Regions from separate parts of the Homo sapiens genome. Here all the other regions are reported to be linked to region 7. Evidence: microRNA targets listed by miRTarBase, many of them from high-throughput screens and not tested one by one. Region 7 holds a microRNA gene; each other region holds the end of a gene's coding sequence.

Region 1 (3,110 bases), not on the chromosome of region 7:
AATAGCAACATCATTCTTCACAGAATGAGAAAAGACAATCCTAAAGTTTACATAACTTTATACTATAAAGCCATAGTCACAAAAACAGCATGGTACTGATATAAAAATAGGCATATAGACCAATGGAACAGAATAGAGAACCCAGAAATAAAACCAAATACTTACAGCCAACAGATTTTTGACAAAGCAAACAAAAACATGAAGTGGGGAAAGGAAACCCTATTGAACAAATAATGGAGGGATGTTTAGCAAGCCACATGTAGAAGAATAAAACTGGAAACTCATCTCACAACTTATACAAAAATAAACTCAAGATAGACATAAGACATAAATCTAAGACCTAAAACAGTAAAAATTCTAGAAGATAACATTGGAAAAACGTTTCTAGACATTTGCTTAGGCAAAGACTTCATGAATAAGAACCCAAAAGTAAATGCAACGAAAACAAATATAAACAGATGGGGCTTAATTAAACTACAAAGCTTCTGCAGAGCAAAAATAATCAGCAGAGTTAACAGACAACCCACAGAGTGAGATAAAATATTCACAATCTATACATCTGTCAAAGGACTAAGATCCAGAATCTACAAAAAACTCATATAAACCAGCAAGAAATAAAAACAATCTCATTTAAAAGTAGGCTAAGGATATGAATAGACAATTCTCAAAAGAAGATATACGAATGGCCAAGAAACATATGGAAACTTGCTCAACATCTCTAATTATCAGAGTAATGCAAATGAAAATCACAATATGATACCACCTCACTCCTGCAAGAATGGCCATAATTAAAAAATAAAAAAATATAGTGTTGGTGGGGATGTGGTGCAAAGGGAACAATTTTACACTTCTGGTGTGAATGTAAATTAGCACCATTATGAAAAATAGTGTGGAGATTTTTTTAAAGAACTAAAAGTTGATCTATCATTTGATCTAGCAATCCCACTACTGGGTATCTATCCAGAGGAAAAAAAGGCATTATATGAAAAAAGATACTTGCACACACGTTTATAGTCTATGTGCCTATTTGTATACCAGCACCATGCTGTTTCGATGACTAAAGCTTTATAGTATAGTTTAAAGTCAGGTAATGTGATGCCTCCAGATTTGTTCTTTTCTCTTACTCTTGCTTTTGCTATGTGGAATCTAAAAGAAAATTTTATTATTTTTGATCACATCAGTTAATCTGGAGGACAGCATATTAGTTGAAATAAGCCAGGCACAGAAAGATTAACATCTCATGACCAAATAACATATTGTTACTCTCTTTTACCTCCCTCCTTGAGTAAAGTGAAAAAGGTTAAAGTTAATGGCATAATAACGCTTCATTGAATGCACAATAGTCTTAACATGTTAAAGAAATGTTTAATTATAAAATTAAGCTTATACATAATCTAAAAATTTTCAAATGTACTGCATTTATAGCATAAAAGTACAATTAGTAAAATGATTCACTAGTAATTTAATTACATTTAATTTAAAGTAAAATTAAAAATGCTTTTCTCTATGATGCAGAATATTACTCCAAACACCTACCTCATGCATCACTCAATATGAAAAGTAAACTAACAGGGCCTCTCCACTTAGATTTTCATCATAAACCTTACATTTTAATGCCCATACTCTTCCACAGAAAAAACCATAAATAATGCCCATCTAATAAAAAAGAATCTCTCCTATATCTGACACAGCAACAATTTATCACATGCTTTCACATGTGAATACAATAGGAATGAAATAAAGTAATTTGAGAGTTGAATTTCATCATTATTTACTTTTCAAATAAGCCATAATTTTTTCAAGAAAAAAAGTATACTTTCAATGTAATTATAACTCTCCAAAGAATCTTCTACTCCTTTTAAAGTTATTTACAAATAATCTAACAACTTATAGATTTTTTTATACTCAACACTCTGTTTTAGTGTAATGTCTAAAGTGTCAGTGCCTTAGTTATTTCTACTGTAAATTATTTAATATTTACATAGACTCAATTTTGGATTAAATATTTTTCATACTTACTGCATCTGCAAAAACACATTTCAATATAAATTCATGTTTTCTACGCCGTAGTTTTTGAAAAAAAATGTTTTTCCAAATTCATTACATTTGCAGGATTTTTCTCCAATATAAATTCCCTGATGTTGAACAAAGTTTGAGCAACTGCTTCAGTGTTTTTCTCTAGTACAAAATGCGTACAATAAGATTTGTAATACAAGTAAAGGTACTACAACCCTCCTATGCTCCTTATATTTGTTATGTTTGTCTTCAAAATAAACACGCTTCTTCACTTTAAAGTGTTATGTTTTCTGAAATTTCTTTTGACAGTAATTGCATTTATAATGCTTTTAATAAGTATAAACTCTGGTGTTGAGTAAGATGTGAAAAGATATCAATGACTTTTTCACATTCTTTATACTTGTACAATCTTTCTCAAGTAAAAATGCTTTCCTGTGCAATAAGATGTGAGTATTGGTTAAGTTTTGTCACATTCTTTACACTTATAAAGTTTTCTCCAATATAAATTATCTTACCTACAAGCAAGTGTAACAATCATTGGAAGGCTTTGTCAAATTCTTCACATTTTTAGGGTTTCTCAACAGGATGGTGTCTTTTATGTTTAGAAAAGTTTTAGGTGTTATCAAAATTATTGTCACATTTTTCAGGTTTGTAGAGTTTCTCACCAGTATGAATTTTCTTATGTCTAGTAAGGTGTGAGGACCGGTTAAAAGCTTTGCCACATTCTTCACATTTGTAGGGTTTCTCTCTAGCATGAATTCTCTTATGATTAGCAAGAGTTGCAGGCCAGTTAAAAACATTGCCACATTCATCACATTTGTAGGATTTCTCTCCAGTATGAATTACTTTATGGTTAGTAAGGGTTGAAAATAAAGTAAAGCCTTTGCCACATTCTTCACATTTGTAGGTATTCTCTCTAGTGTGAATTCTCTTATGTCGAGTAAGGCTGGAGCACCCATTAAAAGCTTTGCCACATTCTTCACATTTGTAGGGTTTCTCTCCAGTATGAATTCTCATATGTTCAGTAAGGTTTGAGGACTGTATAAAAGCTTTGCCGCATTCTTCACATTTGTAGGATTTCTCTCCAGTATGAA
Region 2 (3,000 bases), not on the chromosome of region 7:
GACAAAAAGAAAAACTTTGGCAAATAATAAATTACATCAAATGGAAAGAGAATTCTATGTATATTTTTTAAAAGATGAAGATTATCTGAAAGATATTGTGGAGAATTTAGAAACTCAATCAAAGATTAAGGCTGTTAGTCTTGAAGATTGAAAATTACTGAAAACTGAATCTTTATTACGTGTCCTCTTTTATTTATTAGAAGACTGTGTATAATAAACACTACTAAATTTTTAAAATTTGAGGTCAATGGAACATTTAATTTGATGAATTGAACTATTATATTAATTTGTCTTTTTTCTCATGTAGTACATTCAGAATACCAGTGCTTTTTATGACTTGAGCATGTGTTTAGTGGTACTTAGTCCTGGTAATTTTTTACTTACAGGGAAAAAGCATTATTACATAATGCAAATATTTTTTAATATAGTTATCTCTCTCCTTTTTAGAAATAGAAATTTTCTGCCGTTAAATTTTTTTTTGAGATAGAGTCTCACTCTGTCTCCAGGCTGGAATGCAGTGGCACGATCTTGGCTCACTGCAACCTCTGCCTCCCGGGTTCAAGTGATTCTCCTGCCTCAGCCTCCCAAGTAGCTGGGACTACAGGCGCACACCGCCACACCCAGCTAATTTTTTTGTATTTTAGTAGAAAAGGGGTTTCACCATGTTGGCCAGGATGGTCTCAATCTCTTGACCTCTTGATCCCCTCTCCCGGCCTCCCAAAGTGCCGGAATTACAGGCATGAGCCACCACGCTCAGCCGCTATTAAATATTTTAAAATGTGTAGAACTTCTAGTCAGCATTTTTAAATCTGTAGACCTTAATATGTGAAATAGCCAAGTCCCCTCATGTTTGACTGTCAAATAAAATTCTGCTGCTCAAATTGTATTCCTCCATAATTCCCTGCTATAGACCTTTAGGCTGTTTTAATGTCCCTACTTGTACCACAGAGTATTAGGACTTCCTTGGCCTGCCTGCATTCATTTTAGAGTCTGAATTCTGGGGACTCAAAAGTTTCTACAAGACAGCTGAGCAGTGCTTTGACTTTAATGTGACTTACACATCATAAATGACTTTCAAATGAAATTTGAATTTCAAAATTCTGTAAAAGTGGTTGCTCAAAAGATGTATGATACTATTTTAATCAGTTTAAGAGCAAAAATGTCTAATTGTATTTAACAATGGTATTTGGGCAGCCAGAAAATATTTTAAGCGTTGCTCTAAAATAATTTGAAGTAGCTCATCTGTTATTACATCAGATGCTTCTTGAGTGCCCAATTTATACATGGCCTGTGGTAAATACCATGTGAGCTTTGTAGGAATACCTTTAAGAATATTCCTCACCTGTTCGTAATATGGAATGCCAATCTAAAAACTACATGTTTTGGGTGGTCTTTATGGAATTTTTTAGCTATAACCATCAGAAAACAGGCATACCTAGATGACAGATGAACCTTCTTGATTTTTGAAACCCATTGAACAAAAATATTTTGCCAATTATTGTGTTTATGTTATTTAAAATTTTATGTAAACCTTAATTTTGTAGCAGTAAATTTTGTTTAAGATTTTGCTATCAGCTCCCTATCACCTGAGCAACTTTTTTTTTGTTGTATATGTTTTTTTCTATTCTATTTCGGAATAGAGAATTTACTTAAAATTTTTATTTTCTCCAAAAATGTGGAAAATATGTCACCTGGTTTCCTGGTTTATGGTAGCATATTCTGTTTAAATTAGTGTCACATATTTAGATGTGTGGCCAGACGCTTGATTTATTAGTTAATTTTTGAGACAGAGTCTAACTGTGTCACTCAGGCTGGAGTTCAGTGGAATGATCTCGGCTCACTGCAACCTCCGCCTCCCAGGTTCAAGTGATTCTCCTGCTTCAGCCTCCTGAGTAGATGGGATTGTAGGCGTGCACCACTGCACCTGGCTAATTTTTGTATTTTCAGTAGAGACGGGGTTTCACCATGTTGGTCAGGCTGGTCTCAAACTCCTGACCTCAAGTGATCTACCCGCCTTGGCCTTCCATAGTGCTGGCATTACAGGTGTAAGCCACCATGCCCCTGCCCAGATGCTTGATTTATACTGTCCCCACCCAAACCTTGACTTGCTCAGCCCAGGGGGCCAGCAGGGCAGATCAAGGCACGGATGGTAGTTGTGTGTCTGCCGTAATTACCCAAGTTACTTATAATCGTTGTGTTACTAGGTAGGTTTATTTGAAGATTTATTTATTTATTTATTTATTTTTTATTTTTTGAGACGGAGTTTCACTCTTGTTGCCCAGGCTGGAGTGCAGTGGCATGATCTCAGCTCACTGCAACCTCTGCCTTCTGGGTTCACGTGATTCTCCTGCCTCAGGCCTCCCGAGTAGCTGGGATTACAGGTGCCACCATGCCTGGTTAATTTTTTGTATTTTTAGTAGAGACGGGGTTTCATCATGTTGGCCAGGTTGGTCTCGAACTCCTGACCTCAGGTGATCCACCCGCCTCAGTCTACCAAAGTGCAGGGATCACAGGCATGAGCTTCCGCGCTCAGCCTATTTGAAGATTTAATAACATTTTTCAAACCTCAGGATGTATTTGAGTAGATTGCTTCTAAATTGGTCACCTAGAAAATAAGTTATCTATTTACTATGATACCTGGATTAAGCCTCTAGCTATTTTGCTTTTTTCTTTCTATCTATATTATTGGATGATTGATGCCTATTTTCTGTGGTTATGAATATAGACATTTTAAATGAAAGTTGGTATATAAATTTTTGAAAATAATTGTATTTCCTGTTTTATAGTCTTAGGATTAATATATGGGATTTATCTTATGTTAATCTTACATTTAGGATTTTGTGAAAATGGAAAATTATGAGGCATTGGTAGGCTTTGATCTCTGTAATACACCGCTCTCCAGTGTTGCTCAGAAGATTATGTCTGCTATGCATTCAGGTGATTTAGTGGATTCTAAGACTTGGGGAAAGAGTACAGAGAGTAAGTAATTTTTATGAACCT
Region 3 (3,106 bases), not on the chromosome of region 7:
TCTTTCCCAGGAGTAAGGCCTGTGATGGTGGGATGGGGATGGCCAGACCCCTGACTCCACAGTCAGGACTGTTCTGGCTTATCAGCCACCCTGGCACAGAGAAGGTCACAGGGATGAATATGCCACGCACAGGGGCAGCACAGGTTTAGTTGGGTTGGGGGAAGTACCATGGAGCCGGCAGTGTGAGGGCTGTGCTGTGAGGGCCCAGTAGGATTTGAATGTACAGATGGGCAGAGGGCATGTGCCCAGCCCAGGCTCTGGACTCTTGCCACAGTGTGTGGCAACTTCCAGGGGCTTGTTTATTGGTGCTGCGTGGGGATGTCTCCTTTGTTTAGATGGCGTCAGAGGCAGAGCAGGTGTCAGTGAAGGGGAGTGAGCACAGGACCAGCTGTCTCCCAAGAGGCTGAGGAGCTGGCCCAAGGCTTTGGGGGCTGGATTTGTGCCTCACCCAGCTCCTGCCTTGTGGCTGTCTCCACAGTCCTCCCTACTGACTGGCTTTCTGCCTTTGTTTTCTCAGCCATGATGAGGAGCAGCCCTGGGCCAGGTGCCACGGTCAGTATGAGAGGCTCCAGGATCAGGCTAGAGAACCACGCGAACCAGGTCTGGGGAGCTATCTGTGGGAAAGGTCAGGGCCTGTTTTTCTCCTAAGCTGCTGGCTGTTCAAGGGACCTACCTCCTTGTCCCTTCCCAGTCACAGGTCCAAGGGGCAAATAGCGAATTCCCATGGAGGAGAATCACTGCACTCCAAGTGGACGTGGCTGGTAGGTAAGTGTAACTTTTTCTGCTGCTGTTCAGTGGTACTGAGAGACAGGAAAGCCCCACTGCTCCCGCCCCACCCTTTGTGATGGGTTATCAATGACAGCTAATAAAGCCACCTCACTGCTTCCTCATGCCAGCCCTTGACCCACAAACACTGGAGGAGACCTGCCTCAGGTCCCATCCCCCACCACAACTGGGCTTTAGCTGAAAGTTGTGGGTTTCTGAACTTCAGGAATAAGTCTTTGGGGACATTCGTTTGGCCAAGAATTCATTCCCTCATCTGCCCAAGAGCAGCTGCCCTAGGTGATAGGCAAAAGCCACATGAAAGCCACATCCCACAGCTCTTGGGCGTCATTTATTTTTTGCATAGGCATAAATTAGGATCTGGAGATAAAAAACTTAAGAACCAATAGTGCAGCATTTGTGACAGGAGAGCGCAAAACAAACCCTGGCTGCCTCGGGATGGAGCGGGGCGGCCTCACCACCACTGCATCCAGCCTCATGCTCCAGAGCGGATTTGAGGCTCAGTGCTGCAGTGAAGGCCTGCCCGCCTTCTTGCCCCTTCCCCGCAGCCAGACCACCAGACACAGCCGGAACCAGTGCCCCAGGCCCCTCTCCACGGCCAGGAACAAGAAACTGAGTATCACCCAGTGCCCCACAGAACGGGGCTAGGAATCAAGCCCTTAGCTTTTCAGTTAGAAAAACAGACCTTGAAAAATATATACATAATACAGTGGGGCCTGCTGGCTCTAAAAGTCCCCTCCTCCCCCTTCCCTATCCAGGGTAACTTCTGCCAGCCTCTTCCCCCAGCCCCCACCAACTGCCCCACAGAGAACAAACCAGAAGGGCGACTACCTGAACAAGAGCTGCAAGAGCCCAAGGGGGCAGCCTGAGCGGACGACCCCTACATCAGGGCCTGGTTAGATGTGGGGGCCGGTGCAGACAGACCTCGCACCCCGATACCCTGAACGTCCCCACAAGAGCCCAGGAGTTCCATGCTCCCCACTCTTCTTGCTATAACCCCAGATGCTAATGGCCCCAAAGACAGGTCTAGGTCTCCATACCCTGGGAGAATGTGGAAAGCAAGCTCAGGGGCACTGGCAGGCCCTAGCAGGAACAGGGAGCAGGGTGGGCCCCAACCTAGCATCAGGAGAGAGAAAAGCAACTACCGTCCCCAGCAGAGGGGAAGCCTACAGGGTTGGCCCTGGGCCCCTTAGAAGATCACAGCAGCCAGTCCCCTTTAGGGCACAAGAAGCCCCATGGCCCACTGCTACCCTCCCCGGGACAAATACACACTTTTGTCGAAGGCCCTCAGGGACCCTGTGGTTCATGCTTCCCTAGGTGGAGGGCACTAACCTTGTAGGAGAGCTGGGCAGCTCTCCATCAAGTGCTTCCTGCCTGGGGAAGTCCCATCCTGCTCTGGAGCTAAGCACCCTCCTCCCAGAGGGCCTCGCTTCCTTGCCCAGGGGCAGAGGCAGCTCACCTAGCCCAGGCCGTAGCTTGCCCCTCCCACAGCCCTGGCACCTGCTTCATCAGCTCCCAGGCACCAGCCCCTGACCCCAGCCAAGACCAGTCAGGTCCTACCTCTCCCAACTTCCCAGTCCCCCATGATATGCTACATATATACACACTCCCAGGATGGGAAGCAGACGCCACGGGCACAGAGGGAAGGAAGAAGGGAGCTGCTGGAGCCTGCTAACCGCCTCGAGCCACCTGCTGCTCAGGAGACCCTGCCCGTCCTTTTCATCTGCATGGGGCCACAGGCTCCTCTCTTGTGCTCCTAGAAGTCAGAGCGCCGAGCAAGCGTGTGGGGGAAGCGGCGGGGTGCTGTTCACCCACTCCCAGATGGCTGGCAGCAGGCACCAGTAAGCAGGGCTAGTGGGCGGGCTCCCCATGCACTCTGAAGCGGTAGATGCAGGTGTACTCGGGGTGGCCCCAGTTAGTCAGGATCCGCAGCTCCACCACCTGGTACGTGGCCATCGTAGGGGCCTGGGTAGAGAAGAAAGGGATTAAGAGCATCAGAGACCTGTGAGGCCTCACTGACAGAGAAGGTGGGAAGGGGAGACAGCCTCGCCTAGGGCCAGATGGCTCCCCTGCTCCTTCCCTGGGGCTCTGAAGAGAACCAGGCTTCAAAAGCTCCTATCTTTAGCCTCCTGAGCAGTGTTTCCAGCCAGTGGGTTAAGGGGCCACCTGTAGCACACTTCATCTGAAACCGGAATGAATTCATCCACAATCGTTTTTTTATTGTGATCAACAGATAGAACCACCTTCATAGAGGGCTTCATAGATGCTGATGTGGGGCACACTTGATTCTTTTTCTCCAGTGCCCATCGGGCCTCTGTCTAGC
Region 4 (3,110 bases), not on the chromosome of region 7:
TAAGTCTACTGAGCTTTTCTAATGGTTATTTAATAACTTTCCATTGAGTTTGAATGGATATATGAAGGGAAGAAAAAAAATCTTATCAATAAATCCTGTATATTTGGGAACTATTCCCTGATTCCCAAATAAAAAATAATTGTGTACTGGGTTCCCTCCTTATGGCTCCATATTAAATAACCTGTCAGGGAATAATTTTAAATCTACTTTCAAATTGAGGTGTGGTTATCATAGGTTAGTGATTTTAAACAACTGAGAATATAACTTTTATTTTGTAAAGTCACTATTAAGTGTATAAAAAGGATACTCTTTTTATGGAAATTCCAAATAAGCACATTTTCCTTCAAATCTCAGACAAGTTTTTTTTTTTTTTTTAAAGAAAGTACAGAACAAAACATACCAACATAATGTGTGGTGTATTAGCATAATTTAAAAACAAATGCAGAGAGGTGATCTTTAAATTTAATATCAAAATATGCTGACCATTAGAACTGCATTATAATTTTGAAGAAATGATTGACAACCTTTGTCACCAATTGTGTTTGCTTCATAGAAAAAACAAGACTTGCTAATGTTTTCATATACACAATCTGAAGAAGTTATGTTGTTCATAAGAAAGTGATATTTAATTCTAAGCACAGAGTATTCACAAAAACAAGTTTCAGTAAAAAAAAAAACTAAAACAAACACTGAAGTAGAGTTTTGTAAATACAACTGATTTTGTCCTTGTAGATAATTAGTGAACGTACAAATAGAAATTTTGCTAGACTGCTTCCAAGAAAGCTAGGTAGACTCGGCGACTGTGAATTCAAGTCAGCAATGCAGGTAGGAGGCGAACTTGGGCTCTTTTGTGAGCAGCACTGTAGAAAGGATTTTTCAAGGGGGTACAGCCTGCATAAAAGCAGTTATCTTGGCATGTGCAAACAAGAAGGGGGAAAGTTGTATTGAAGGAGGGGTGAATTAAAGTCCCTAAAATTCAAGTCCCTTCTTTAGGGAGGTGAGAACCTCCTTGGCATATGCCCTACCTTAATCTGAGCTGTGTTATAGAAAAGTACAGACTCTGGTGTTTGGGACTGACATCTCCAAACCAAGAAAATTAAATAAATAAAAAAGGCAAGGGAAGTTTAAAAAATGGTTCTTTCACTAGTGGAATAGAGTCTGAATACCAGAATTCACTGAGAATCTATTTACACCACAGTTTGATTGCGCGCACACACACACACCCATACATATGCATACTCTCACATACATTCCCAATCTTTAATTTAAAAAAAAAAGTCAAACAATCAAGAATGACTGCTTGAAAAATAATTTGTAAAATGCCTAGAGCTGGGCTAAATTTCAACCTTATAGCAGATCCTGAAAATAAATTTCATAATAATATTTCCATGCCTAAATATGCCACTGTTAAAACTGAAAAAAATTTAAGCATGTAACATTAAACACTAAAATTAGTTTAAGCATTCAGTAGCAAATGGTTTTTCTTGTAAAACTAAGTTTCTTTCACCGGAAATGGCCTGAAATATTAGTCATAGCCCTAAACCATAGTACAAAATATAACTGAAGAATTCTCATTTTATTCTAAGTTAAACCACCTAACAATACCACTTGTATATTGCCATCATGTTATTCTGTAAAGATGTGATATATAAAATGCTGTAAGACCTGGTACCTTTTCAATTTATAAACACAGTGAACTTCATTACTGTACATGTACTCTGCAACTACAGCTTAGCTGTAAATCCTCCACACACAATGGTATGGACATTATTCCCCCTCTATCCCCGTTAAACTGTACATCGAGACAATACAAATTTACTGTCCCACCCACCCCCTTACAAAAAAATAATACTCTAAAAGCAACCCTACTGCAACTTTTTAATTAAGACGATTACATATATTTTAGACCAATTGCTTTAAAGCAAGAAGGCAGTATAAACCTTCTAGGAAAATTTTTATAAAAGAGGTTAAGAAATATAAGACAATTTATACATTTAAAAACTTACAATAAATAAGAGAAGAGATGCAGGCATTTTTGAATACTAGATACTATAATCCATACAAGAACATCTTCATGTTCTGAAGCCATATGTTGAAATTCATTGTTCCTCATGTTTCCTCTCCATGCTTTTAATATTCATTTAACATGACTGGGTACTATGGCTCATTACTTTTCACAAATACTGTGACTGGAAAAAAAAAAGGTTAATTTTGCTACGAAAATGTTATAATACGTTTTGTATGATCAGTCATCATCCTAAAGAGTTCAATAGAGTCAATGAAAAATAGCAGGGTTATAGCCCCTCCCCCCAAGTCAAAACAATATTTGTTGAAGTAATAAGAATTAGACCCCATCACAAATGACCTTCACTGAGAAGATAATTGTAACTTAATCCTGCAGCGAAACATCCATTTTTCCTTGTTCTTTTCTTGCACAGTTCCATCAAATGAAGATCACAGCATATTCATAATAAAGTTATATAACTGATTCAGCACCACAAAATGAATTGGGAGACATGAGCGTCTGTCCTGGGTTGCAGGGTCACAGGTTAGCCAGGAGAGTGCATTGTACTGTTCCAAAACAAACCTGAAAAGCAAATAAACTGCATAAGTCATTTATTTATTTCCAACCTAGATTTTGGAAGCAGTTTTCAATTATGGCATTTAAGACTCAAAGTCACCTTAAAAAAGAGTGTAACAGAGAGTCCTTGAGGGGAAAGAAGCAATTTCCATAAAAATTATTCTCAAAAGTAGATTACTCAAGTTAGAATAGCAGTGTTTATCTAGAGATCCACTGGTACACAACTGTAAATTCTTGCCAAAAATGAGAAAAATATATAAGAATCAACATTATATTCTTTTAAAGTTGCAGTGACAAACTGTTAATGGTAAAAGAGTTGTACCTGAGGACATCTGAAGTCTGATTTGAGTCAAGTGGGTGGGAGTGTTTACTGTGAAGCAGCTCGTCAGATTGCACTGAAGGCACGTGGAGGTGCAAAGAGGCCTAAGAAGGTAACAGGTAATCAATCAGTCAGCCAAACAGAAAATAATCTGCTATTTAGTTTTACCTTATTCTCCCAATATATCTTATAAAATGATGAAATACATTT
Region 5 (3,110 bases), not on the chromosome of region 7:
AACTGCACTTCCTACTTATCTCTTACAGCCTCTCACACAGCCCTGTGTTGATTCAGTGGCTTAGAGGAGTACACAGAGCTCACCATCTCCACCTTTGAGCATGAGAAGGGGAAAGCTTAAACCTCCTCAGCAGAAAGCACCTCCACTAAAGGTCCAACCTCTAGCAGCAAGACTGAGCCTAGGAACCCACTGGAGTCCTCAGAAGAATGCCCATTTTCTCTTTGTCTCCAGGCCCTAGCCTTACTCTGCAGGCTCAGCTCACACAGTGTCCTGCTGAGTCTGCCACTACTATCATGCAGCCTAACCCCACCAGTCCCCACTTAACACTGGGAGATTTCTCTGTAATTATCCCCACTGCCATTTCTGAGTGAGATTGGTAGAGGGTTTATAAAAGATTGCTGAGATGTAGTTGACTGGCCTCAGATCCCAACTACCTGCCTGGCTCTCAAGAGTGTCAGGCATCTTAGAACTAGATTCTTACTGGTTCAGACTAGTTCTGGAGCCCATGAAAGCCTGGGTGTGACTTCTTAGGAATCCCAAGAGAAGAAATTGAAACTCTGTTCTACTTCATGGGCCAATTCCAAGATGGAGAACTCCTGATGAGAGTAAAAGGGTCAACCCTGAGGCAGAGCCCTGAGATTCTCTCCCAAACCATCTTCACTTGCTCAGAAGTGGCTATATTCTCTCTTCTCCAAAGCCAGACCTTTATTCACGTAACCTATAACTGCCCCTGTGTCCAGGCCCAGTCGACAGTCTCACTCACTTTTAGTAAGGCTTTGGGATCTTCCCGGACCCAAAGACCTACATTTTCACCAGCAGCAGCTCTGGTCAAATGCTGGCCTTACTGTCAACCTGTGATGTTGGCCCATTTTTGTCTAAGTGGGCTCAGAAGTTAGCAGTGGGTGTGGAACCCCCTTTCTCCTCAATCCTTTCTCCATAGTGGCCCATTTTTTCCAGCCCTGAGATGGAAGACTTAGGTGTGAGCCTAGGCAAACTCTTAAGCACCCAGGCTCTTTCTAGCTTTCCTGGGAAAGAGTGTCTCCTGAACTAGGCAAAGCCTTGTTCCCTGGTCCCTGCAGGCATCAGCTAAGCAACAGGTGATGCTCAGAGAGAACCTTTGCCAGTGCCCCAACTGCAGATGAGTCCCAGAATCCTCAGCGGCATTGCCATGTCTTCTCTCCCATCCGAGGCTGGGTACCACATCTTCCCAAGACCCCTAGGGAGGAAGGCATCAGCTTCCCTAGGAAGGAGGGTTGCAGTTAAAGGTGCTGAGCAGGGACGGTGAGAAAGCCTCTTTCCCAAACAGTTGGTCGGGCGGGGCAACAATCTTTCCTGGTGGAAAAGGTGGAGAAGGCACCTGGGGAAGCTGTGGCTGTCCTGAGGAAAAGGAAGCACAGGAAACAGCTTACTGACTCTCCCTGGGCCCTATGAAAAGAGGACTCTTGCCTGAGGCCCTTGTAACCTGGAGTTGTAAACATCCAGGATGCACCCAACAGATTCCTCACCTCCTCTAGTGCAGGGCCCATCAGGGAAGGCAAGACTGGGCTCTGGATTTGAGAGATGAATCCATCCCCAGGGGTAGAGAGGGACCTCAATGTCACAGCAGCTGGAGGAAAGCCCTTTCCCCTAGGCATACAAAAACAGGGTACATGGCTCCATCCCTAGAAGCTAGCAGTCCAGCCCCAAAGGGGCACCTGACAACCAGGTGAGAGGCCAAAAAGGCAGAGATGATTCCAAAGGTACAAGAAATTTGGTGGGAGCAGCTCAGGGGAGAAAACAGGAGCAGACCGGCATAAATGAGCAGCTTCTGAGTGGGCAGCAAGGTCTGTTGTGCTCAGTGAGTGCCTGAAATGTACCTGGCATGTGGTAGGCACTCAGTCAGTATCTGAATAAGTGAATGAATGATTAAAGTATAGTTTGGGGCAAAGTGAGACAAGTTAAAAACAGACGAAAATGGTTTGGGAGCCCCACCTATGGGAGTGAGGTGGACTGAGGAGAGCCCAGCCACAGGAGGGGCTGAGTTCGGGTGAGGGGACTGGACTGGCAGGGTGGGGAGTGCAGGGCTCTTGGTGTGCCCTAGTGGGGCATGGGCCTGTGTCTGTGTTGCAGCATTGCCTGGAATTGAAAGGGTTCTGGTGGGAGAGAGCTGAGACAGGCAGAGTGAGCCCCAGGTTCAAACTTCACTCCCTCCACAGATGTGATCTGAGTCATGGGTGTGATCCCAGTAAGAGCCTTGCCTCACCTGGCCCTGGTGCCTCCTTCACCAGCTCCGCCTGGCCAAGCCTTGCCCCAGCCCCCACTGAGAGGCAACTGTAGCTCTGCCTCAATGCCCTGAAATGCTTCTGAACTGGGCGTCAGGGTGGAGCTGAGACAAGATTGTGATCCCAGGGAATCACAAAAAGGCCAGGAGACACCAGGACAAAGGGACCTCCTGGCTTAGGAGAAACCATCATAAAAGAGCATCTTCCCATTCCCTTACCCTCAGCCCCACACCACCCACACTCGGGTTCCCCCCATCCTATTTTACTCCACCTTCAGTACCCTGTAGCAGCCACATTCCCACAAGAAAGCCAAGCTGTTCCTTAAAGTCAAGTAGATTTAATCTGTAACTATGAAATGTCTAGGTTAGCAGCAATTATGGATGCCCAGAGACTGGGCAGAATCTGTCCCCCGAAGGCATCCTGAGGGCCACGAAGGCTCCCCTCAGTTCACAGAGGTAGCTGGCAGGATGTTAGCTTTGCGCTCAGCTTCAATGCAGTACTTCTCGGGAAGGCCAGTGGCTCTGCCGGGGAAACGCAGGCAGGTATAAGGAAAGGTATTGGACCAGACAGGAGGTGGGAGGAAGCAGGCTCTGGGTGGGGTTTACAGAACCTGGGGGCCTGCACCCCCCAACCCTGCTCTCACAATCCACCCCCGAAACACACATTCATGCCAAGGCTCCAGCATCCTGCCAAGGAGCTCCCAGAGAGCCAGCAAGACCCCATCCCAGGACTTTCTGCTGGAGCCCCCTTCAGAGGGATGAGCCCTGGGTGGGGAGAAGAGCCTCTCCCTGAGCATCTCTGCCATGGCCCTTCACCCCCAAATCCCCATGCTTTCCAGCCTGTGGTGCC
Region 6 (3,110 bases), not on the chromosome of region 7:
CCCCACAAAAATCTGTTCCCACCCCCACTGTGAGCTCCGGATGCCTCTTCCCTTGTCCTGGCCCCCTCCCCGGCAGCCCAAACATTAGGGCAAGCCTGAAGGAAAGGCTGCTCCAGAGTGAGGAAGGGATGGAGAAAGGAGCACGCAGAGTTGACTTTCAGATGGATCAGGGTTTCACCAGTTCCTTTCTCGAGCCCCTGCTGTCCTTGTTGGGTAGAGCAACAAGAATCCGGAAGTGAGGATGCCCCTCCCTCCAAGCAGCCTGACTTTAATTTTATCCTCCCGGTTAGTGTACACTTTCCTAAGGAAGCCAAAGAGAAAATTCCGTGTGGTGGAAGGGAAGGGAAAGCCAGCTACCTCTTCCATGGGGGATGCGGATGACGGCCCAGTGACTGAGGGCTCATCAGAACGCCTCCCTGCACCTCACAGTGAAGGGCTGTTCTTGGAGAAGTACCAAATCAGATGACCAGAGCAGAGTGGACAGAGTGAAGACTGGAATAAAATAGGTCCTGGTCTCTCACAGCAAGAGGCGGTACAAACATACCCAGCAAACGATTTTGGAAAAATTGAGGGAAATGTAAGCAAACACAAGATATGCAAAACAGTAATGTCCAAACCTGTTTGTGGAGAGCAGAATAATGACTACACTGGTGATACCTTTGCTCATTGTGCAAACTAAAGAAAACTTGTTCCCTTTCCCCCAACCACATATAGAAAAGCACTTGAGTTCAAAGGTAAAGCTTGTCACACTCCAAATACAAAATGATTTACTTTACATGCAGCAAAATATACAAGAAGTGAATCCGAAAACCAACTTAATTCAATTCATTATATTCGCTTGGCACAATTGCAATTCAGTTTTAAAAAAATATTTGAAAAATACTGAAACTGACCTGAATTCAAGTATAACGGTTTCTTCAACAGAAACATTATCAATGCAATAAAACATTACACGGAATATATTGAAGCAAAATGCCTTCTTGTGTTTTTCCCTTAAATTTCTGTCTTTTTTTAAAATACAGTTTTAATGCCAACACAACTCACAATTGTATTTTTAAATGAATATTATTGCATTGTTTTTGCATATCTTGTGGGACAGAAAATGCAAAGAGTTACTGATTCCCGTTTCAGAAGCAGAGACAGTGGTTTGTTTTTGCTTTCAAACGGCCCCAGATTCAGATCTTCCCACAGCTAAACCAGAAAGGGGGGACTGCGTAGTCACTGGTGTGCACGGGCACATGGTGTGGGTGCATATACACGGGCAGGACATATGCACACAGACAACCCACCACACACACACGCGTCGCACACACTCGGAGACTCTCTCGCGCATGCTCCTCTCTCCCAAACCCACCTGTACACCCAGCATAAAAAGGAACCCAACTCTATCACCCACATGTGCAAGACCACATCAAGTGCATTGCCAGTTACCTTTCCATTAGATAACCGAACCAAACCAGAACAAAAATAGGTTACTACCTAAGGAAATGATAACAAATTATTGGGCATACACAATGGTTGGTAAAACTCTCCTGCAGCGGCTTCTATTGAACCTCCGTGGAAAAAGGAAACCACAACCGTTTAAATAATACAAGAAAACCAAACCCGATGTACATTGGCAAAAGTGAAAACAGAAAGGTGAGGGGGCTACAGGACTTTGTAAACACTCTTCTTCCTCCCCTCCCGCTGGGAAAGCAAAATAAAACATTTAAAAAAAACCAAAACCGAAAAGAAACTGCAACATGCTGTCAAGAAAAGTGTCAAACCACAAAACAAAAGAGCGCTCAGCGGAAGCTCAGCACCACCTGGTTGGGCGGAGCCGGCGGCGCAGCTCCTCCCTCGCGCTGCCTGCGGGCCGGCGGCTGGCCGGGAGCTCGGCGTGGCCCGTGCCGGTCGGGGGATCCCGTCGCAGGTGGGCAGGGACGGAGTGAGCCGCACCACTGCCGGCCCGACGCCCATCCCCAGAGCTCCGCGCCCCTGGAGGCCTCCTCCTCCCTCTCCGGGCCGGGTTGGGGTCCTCCTGGAAGTCCTGCCCCGCTCCCTTCTCCAAATCCGCAGGGCCCTGGCTCTAGGGAGACAGCGAGGCTCGTACAGAATATGTGCAAATGGTTTCTACAAGCAGAGTCGAAAGACACCCGTTTGCTGTAGGGTCCTTTTGGTGAGGGCGCGCGGGAAGCCGGGGTGCTCTCCCCGCGGAGGCGCGGCCGGGCCCGGGGCCTGCGAGCTGGGAGAGGGCAGGCGCCTTCCTCGCGCCCCGGGACCCTCGCCGCCTCCTCTCCCCGCCTCTGCAGACGCAGCCGGGCGCCTTCCTCCCGGAGGGCGGCTCGCGCACCCAGGCTCCGCGTCTGGTCCCAACAGAAATGAATGAAGACGCTGTTCCGGTTAACTCCAGGTCACGAGAACAGTGAGGCACTTCTGAAACGAACCCATTAGGAACATTGAAACAAATAAAAAAAAGCCCGCATCTGGCAGCGCCCACTACAGGCTGCTGACGTAGACCCTGCTGTCCTGGAGCTCCTCCTCACTCGGTCGACCCCGCGCGCGCACACAGCCCGCGTCCTCTTCGCCCCCGGCTCGGTCCTGCCCCGCGTCCCTGCAGTTCACAAAGGGTAAGAGGGCGCCATTGGGGCTCTGTGGGGCGCCCCCGCTGAGGATGTTGTCGGCCGCGCTCTCCATCTCCTCTATGGTCATGTCGCAGGCGTCGGCCAGCTCCTGGGTGGTGACCTCGATGAACTTGGGATCTTGAGCAAACTGCCCCAGTCCTTCTGAAATCAAGACCTGAAGGAGCGGGGTGGGAGCCATGAAGAACCAAAGGAACATTACTCCTGGAGCCCAGCTCTTCCCTTGAGGGCTAGAGCGAGGGGGTATCTGGTAGGTCACTTGGGGAAGTGTGCGTGTGTGCACGTGTACGTGTGTGTGTTGGGAGGGGCACCCATGGGGAACAAGTGGAGATGGAGCATCTGCCAGAATTAGGGATGTGCAGGCCAGAGAAGTTTTGGCTGGGGTGGTCAAACACTGTCATCAAATATATGAAGACTTGCTTATGGCCCAGCACGGTGGCTCACACCTGTCACCCAGCACTTTGGGAAGCCCAGGCAGAAGGACTGCTT
Region 7 (3,110 bases):
TAATTTGTTTTGAATCAGGTTTAAGTGAAGATATTTTGGTAATCTTTGCTTTCTTATAATAACTAACTATGCTTTTTTTGAGATGTCATTTTAACCTTAATTCTTTGAAAGGTATTACTTTACTCTTGCATAGATTTTTTTTGTTAGTTTGTTTTGATCTTATCCCTATGTGTTTCTACTTTTTGGTCCTAATTTTATAAAAATATCCAGGTTGTAGATATATCTGTTAATACGTAAAATGTTGCTTTTTATCAGCAGATTTGACTTTATTTTTCATTTTTCTGCAGTTTTGGGAATATGATTTATAAGGAGAAGCGAGAATCTGTTAGTAAAGAAGATCTGGCAAGAGCTACTTTAGTTACTATCACCAATAACATTGGTTCTGTGGCACGAATGTGTGCTGTTAATGAGGTAAAAAAACAAAAAACACAAAACTTGAATTATCAAAAATGTGAATTGGAGTCCTATATACACCTAGCAGGGCTTCTTCACTTTCCCTAAGGAGGCCTCTGGGATTGAGATGTAACCCATTAAATGCCAAGACTCATTAGGTATATATGTTACGTATCCAGTTGCTATATTACTTTTAAAGAAAGTAGCAGATAATTCAAATTGAAATAGGAGAAATTTATTCAGAATTTTTTTTCAGAAAAACACAACCTAAATCCCTTGAGGATGTAAAAGAAAGTTCTAAGCATAAGACATTTTGAGATACTTTGTGAAAGCATTTTTTTTAGTCTTAATTTTGCATTTGGAAGGCAGCTATGCTCACCACTATACCACCAGTGCTTAATGTTGCATTTGATTAGTGAAATTCTTGGAAGTTTTCTTACTGCCCTCGGCTTCTTTACAGTGCTGCCTTGTTGCATATGGATCAAGCAGCATTGTACAGGGCTATGAAGGCATTGAGACCTGTTCTTCATGATATTTGAGTGGTGTTTATTGTTACAAGAAAAGTGTGAAAAGGATATACTGTTAGATTGACCATATAGTTGGGATTCTTTGTTTGGAAGAGAATATATATATTTAATTCTAGCTTCCTTATATAATAATAGATATATTTGCCCGTTTAATTTTTATAAATATCAAATACTTTAAATGGATTGGGAAGTACGCTTTTCGAAGGAACCCTTCATTTGTTCATTCATTCATTTATTCATTGAGTAAATATTTACTGATTACCAGATGCCAGACATCGTTCTGGGTATTTGGAACATATTAATGAAGAAAACAAAGATCTGGCTTTGTGGAGCTTGCATTCATTCTAGTGACATATTAAGTAAATTGTGTAGTGTGTATTAGGTGATAAGTGCTATTTTTTTAAAAAGAGACCATCAAACAGGATAAAGAGGATTGGGAATAGGGCAGAGAGTGGTAGAGGACAAATTGCTAAGTAATTGAGTGGTTAAAGGAAAGCTTTATTGAAAATGTGATTCTTAGGCAGAGGTTTGAAGGAGGTGAGGGGGAAACTGTGCATGTAGACATTTTGGGGAGAAAGCTTCCAGCAGAGAGAACAAATATGCAAATCCTCTGAATTATTCTGTATTTAAATCCAGAACTTGGTCTCATCAGTTTTTTAATAACTTAGAAACTTAAGTGTTAGTTGGTTGATGGAGTTACTAGTAGACCATGTTGGGAGCTGACAACAATTTGAGACCTTTATTCTTAGCCCTTTATGTCTAAATTTCCACTGACCAATTGAGTTAACAATAATTTAGGCCATGGTTTACAGTATCCCAACTTATGTACAAAGATTTCTACTCAAAAGTCAGTATAGTGTGAGAGTCGAAATAAGTTTTCTGGTGATTCAAACACCAGTTCCCCTTTGTAAGATTTCCTAATCATAGAGATAATCTAAGAAACCAAATTAGTGTGGAATCTTTGCAGAGAGAGAATGATTTGATGAATCAGGCAGGGGACGGAGAAAGAATGCTAGAATCCTAGGGGAATGCACATGCCAGTACCCCAGTCAGTATTACTCTCCAATTCTGTAGAATCCACAGTTGCATGTCATTGTTCAACATGCATTGCAATGTGTGGGCCAAGTTTGCTACTTATCAACTAAATGCATTTTATAGTACTTACCATGTTTTGATTTTTTTTTTTAATCACATCAGTAATGTGTCTCCAAATGACTTTGTAAGGGGGCTATTTATTGGCCATTTTCAAAAACAAATCTCACCTGAAATCATCTGCTAGAGTCTTTCTGGAACCTTTTTTTAAAAGTAGACTTTATTTTTTAGATCAGTTTCAGGTTCACGTAAAATTAAGTGGAAAGCTCAGTGAGTTCCCATATACCACCTTCCATACACACACAGCCCACTTCCATCCTCAGCATCCCATAGTAGAGTGATCATGTGTTACAGTCCATAACCCTGTGCACACATCATCATCACCCAAAGTCCATAATTTAGGGTTCTCTCTTGGTGTTACACATTTTGTGGATTTTGGATGATGTGTGCAGAACTAATTTTTAAATATTCAGGATTATACAGCTATATGCCAGGAATGTAGTAGGTGTTATACTAATAAAGCGTAGTTGTGTTTTTTTGCATTTTAAAATAAATTTTAAATAAATATTTAGAAACCTTTTATATTGTAAAATCTATTATTTTTACAAGTTTTTTCTTTGTTCTTTTCTTTTAGAAAATAAACAGAGTTGTCTTTGTTGGAAACTTTTTACGTGTCAATACCCTCTCAATGAAACTTTTGGCATATGCACTGGATTACTGGTCAAAAGGTCAACTAAAAGCATTGTTTCTAGAACATGAGGTATGGTAGGAAAATGTTTTTTGTGAATTTTAATAGCATGTTTTTTAAGAGACAGGGTCTTGCTCTGTCACTCAGGCTTGAGTTTAGTGGCACAATGATGGCTTACTGCAGCCTCTTCCTCCTGGGCTCATCAATCCTCCCACCTCAGCCTCCCAAGTAGCTGGGACCACAGGTATGCACCACTGTGCCCAGAAAATTTATTTTTATTAATATTTTTTGTGGAGACAGGATCACTCTTTGTTGCCCAGGCTAGTCTGGAACTCCTGGCCTCAAGCAATCCTTTATAGGTGTGAGCCACCATGCCCAGCCTTAAGTAGTAGAATATTGGTTCCTTCGCT

The links. Region 7 holds the annotated microRNA hsa-miR-103a-3p (AGCAGCAUUGUACAGGGCUAUGA, at 878-900, shown strand). A microRNA usually pairs through its seed, bases 2 to 8, with sites in the 3' UTR of a target mRNA and lowers its output. Matches are read on the target gene's strand: a 7mer-m8 pairs with bases 2 to 8, a 7mer-A1 pairs with bases 2 to 7 and ends in A, and an 8mer does both.
Region 1: miRTarBase lists ZNF680 as a target of hsa-miR-103a-3p. The part of its 3' UTR that is shown has no 7-base or 8-base seed match.
Region 2: miRTarBase lists HAUS3 as a target of hsa-miR-103a-3p. The part of its 3' UTR that is shown has no 7-base or 8-base seed match.
Region 3: miRTarBase lists SUN2 as a target of hsa-miR-103a-3p. Seed matches in the 3' UTR shown: 8mer at 1,173-1,180.
Region 4: miRTarBase lists MED13 as a target of hsa-miR-103a-3p. The part of its 3' UTR that is shown has no 7-base or 8-base seed match.
Region 5: miRTarBase lists CFAP45 as a target of hsa-miR-103a-3p. The part of its 3' UTR that is shown has no 7-base or 8-base seed match.
Region 6: the mRNA of CACNA1C is a reported target of hsa-miR-103a-3p. Seed matches in the 3' UTR shown: 7mer-A1 at 778-784.

What each region holds. Positions count from the first base shown.
Region 1 is chr7:64,518,533-64,521,642 of GRCh38, forward strand. It overlaps ZNF680 (zinc finger protein 680), which reads right to left. Exons shown (of 4, transcript NM_178558.5): 4 at 1,346-3,110. The coding sequence ends at 2,629. Among named protein-coding and RNA genes, the nearest start is that of ZNF680, 43 kb to the right of the region's middle.
Region 2 is chr4:2,229,078-2,232,077 of GRCh38, reverse strand. HAUS3 (HAUS augmin like complex subunit 3) reads left to right here. Exons shown (of 6, transcript NM_001303143.2): 6 at 1-3,000. The coding sequence ends at 151. It overlaps POLN (DNA polymerase nu), which reads left to right. Exons shown (of 26, transcript NM_181808.4): 3 at 2,835-2,979. The coding sequence starts at 2,847. Among named protein-coding and RNA genes, the nearest start is that of HAUS3, 12 kb to the left of the region's middle.
Region 3 is chr22:38,733,633-38,736,738 of GRCh38, forward strand. SUN2 (Sad1 and UNC84 domain containing 2) reads right to left here. Exons shown (of 18, transcript NM_015374.3): 18 at 1,102-2,748. The coding sequence ends at 2,635. It also overlaps a transcript of GTPBP1 not described here. Among named protein-coding and RNA genes, the nearest start is that of SUN2, 21 kb to the right of the region's middle.
Region 4 is chr17:61,944,014-61,947,123 of GRCh38, forward strand. MED13 (mediator complex subunit 13) reads right to left here. Exons shown (of 30, transcript NM_005121.3): 29 at 2,904-3,004; 30 at 1-2,587. The coding sequence ends at 2,455. Among named protein-coding and RNA genes, the nearest start is that of INTS2, 18 kb to the left of the region's middle.
Region 5 is chr1:159,869,782-159,872,891 of GRCh38, forward strand. CFAP45 (cilia and flagella associated protein 45) reads right to left here. Exons shown (of 12, transcript NM_012337.3): 12 at 2,583-2,782. The coding sequence ends at 2,704. Among named protein-coding and RNA genes, the nearest start is that of VSIG8, 8.7 kb to the left of the region's middle. RefSeq lists an enhancer at 1-189.
Region 6 is chr12:2,690,568-2,693,677 of GRCh38, reverse strand. CACNA1C (calcium voltage-gated channel subunit alpha1 C) reads right to left here. Exons shown (of 47, transcript NM_000719.7): 47 at 1-2,778. The coding sequence ends at 2,479. It overlaps CACNA1C-AS1 (CACNA1C antisense RNA 1), which reads left to right and starts at 2,521. Exons shown (of 4, transcript NR_045725.1): 1 at 2,521-2,609; 2 at 2,699-2,871. RefSeq lists a silencer at 1,792-2,061.
Region 7 is chr5:168,558,694-168,561,803 of GRCh38, reverse strand. It overlaps MIR103A1 (microRNA 103a-1), which reads left to right and starts at 831; the gene lies at 831-908. It overlaps PANK3 (pantothenate kinase 3), which reads left to right. Exons shown (of 7, transcript NM_024594.4): 5 at 288-411; 6 at 2,647-2,772. MIR103B1 (microRNA 103b-1) reads right to left here and starts at 900; the gene lies at 839-900.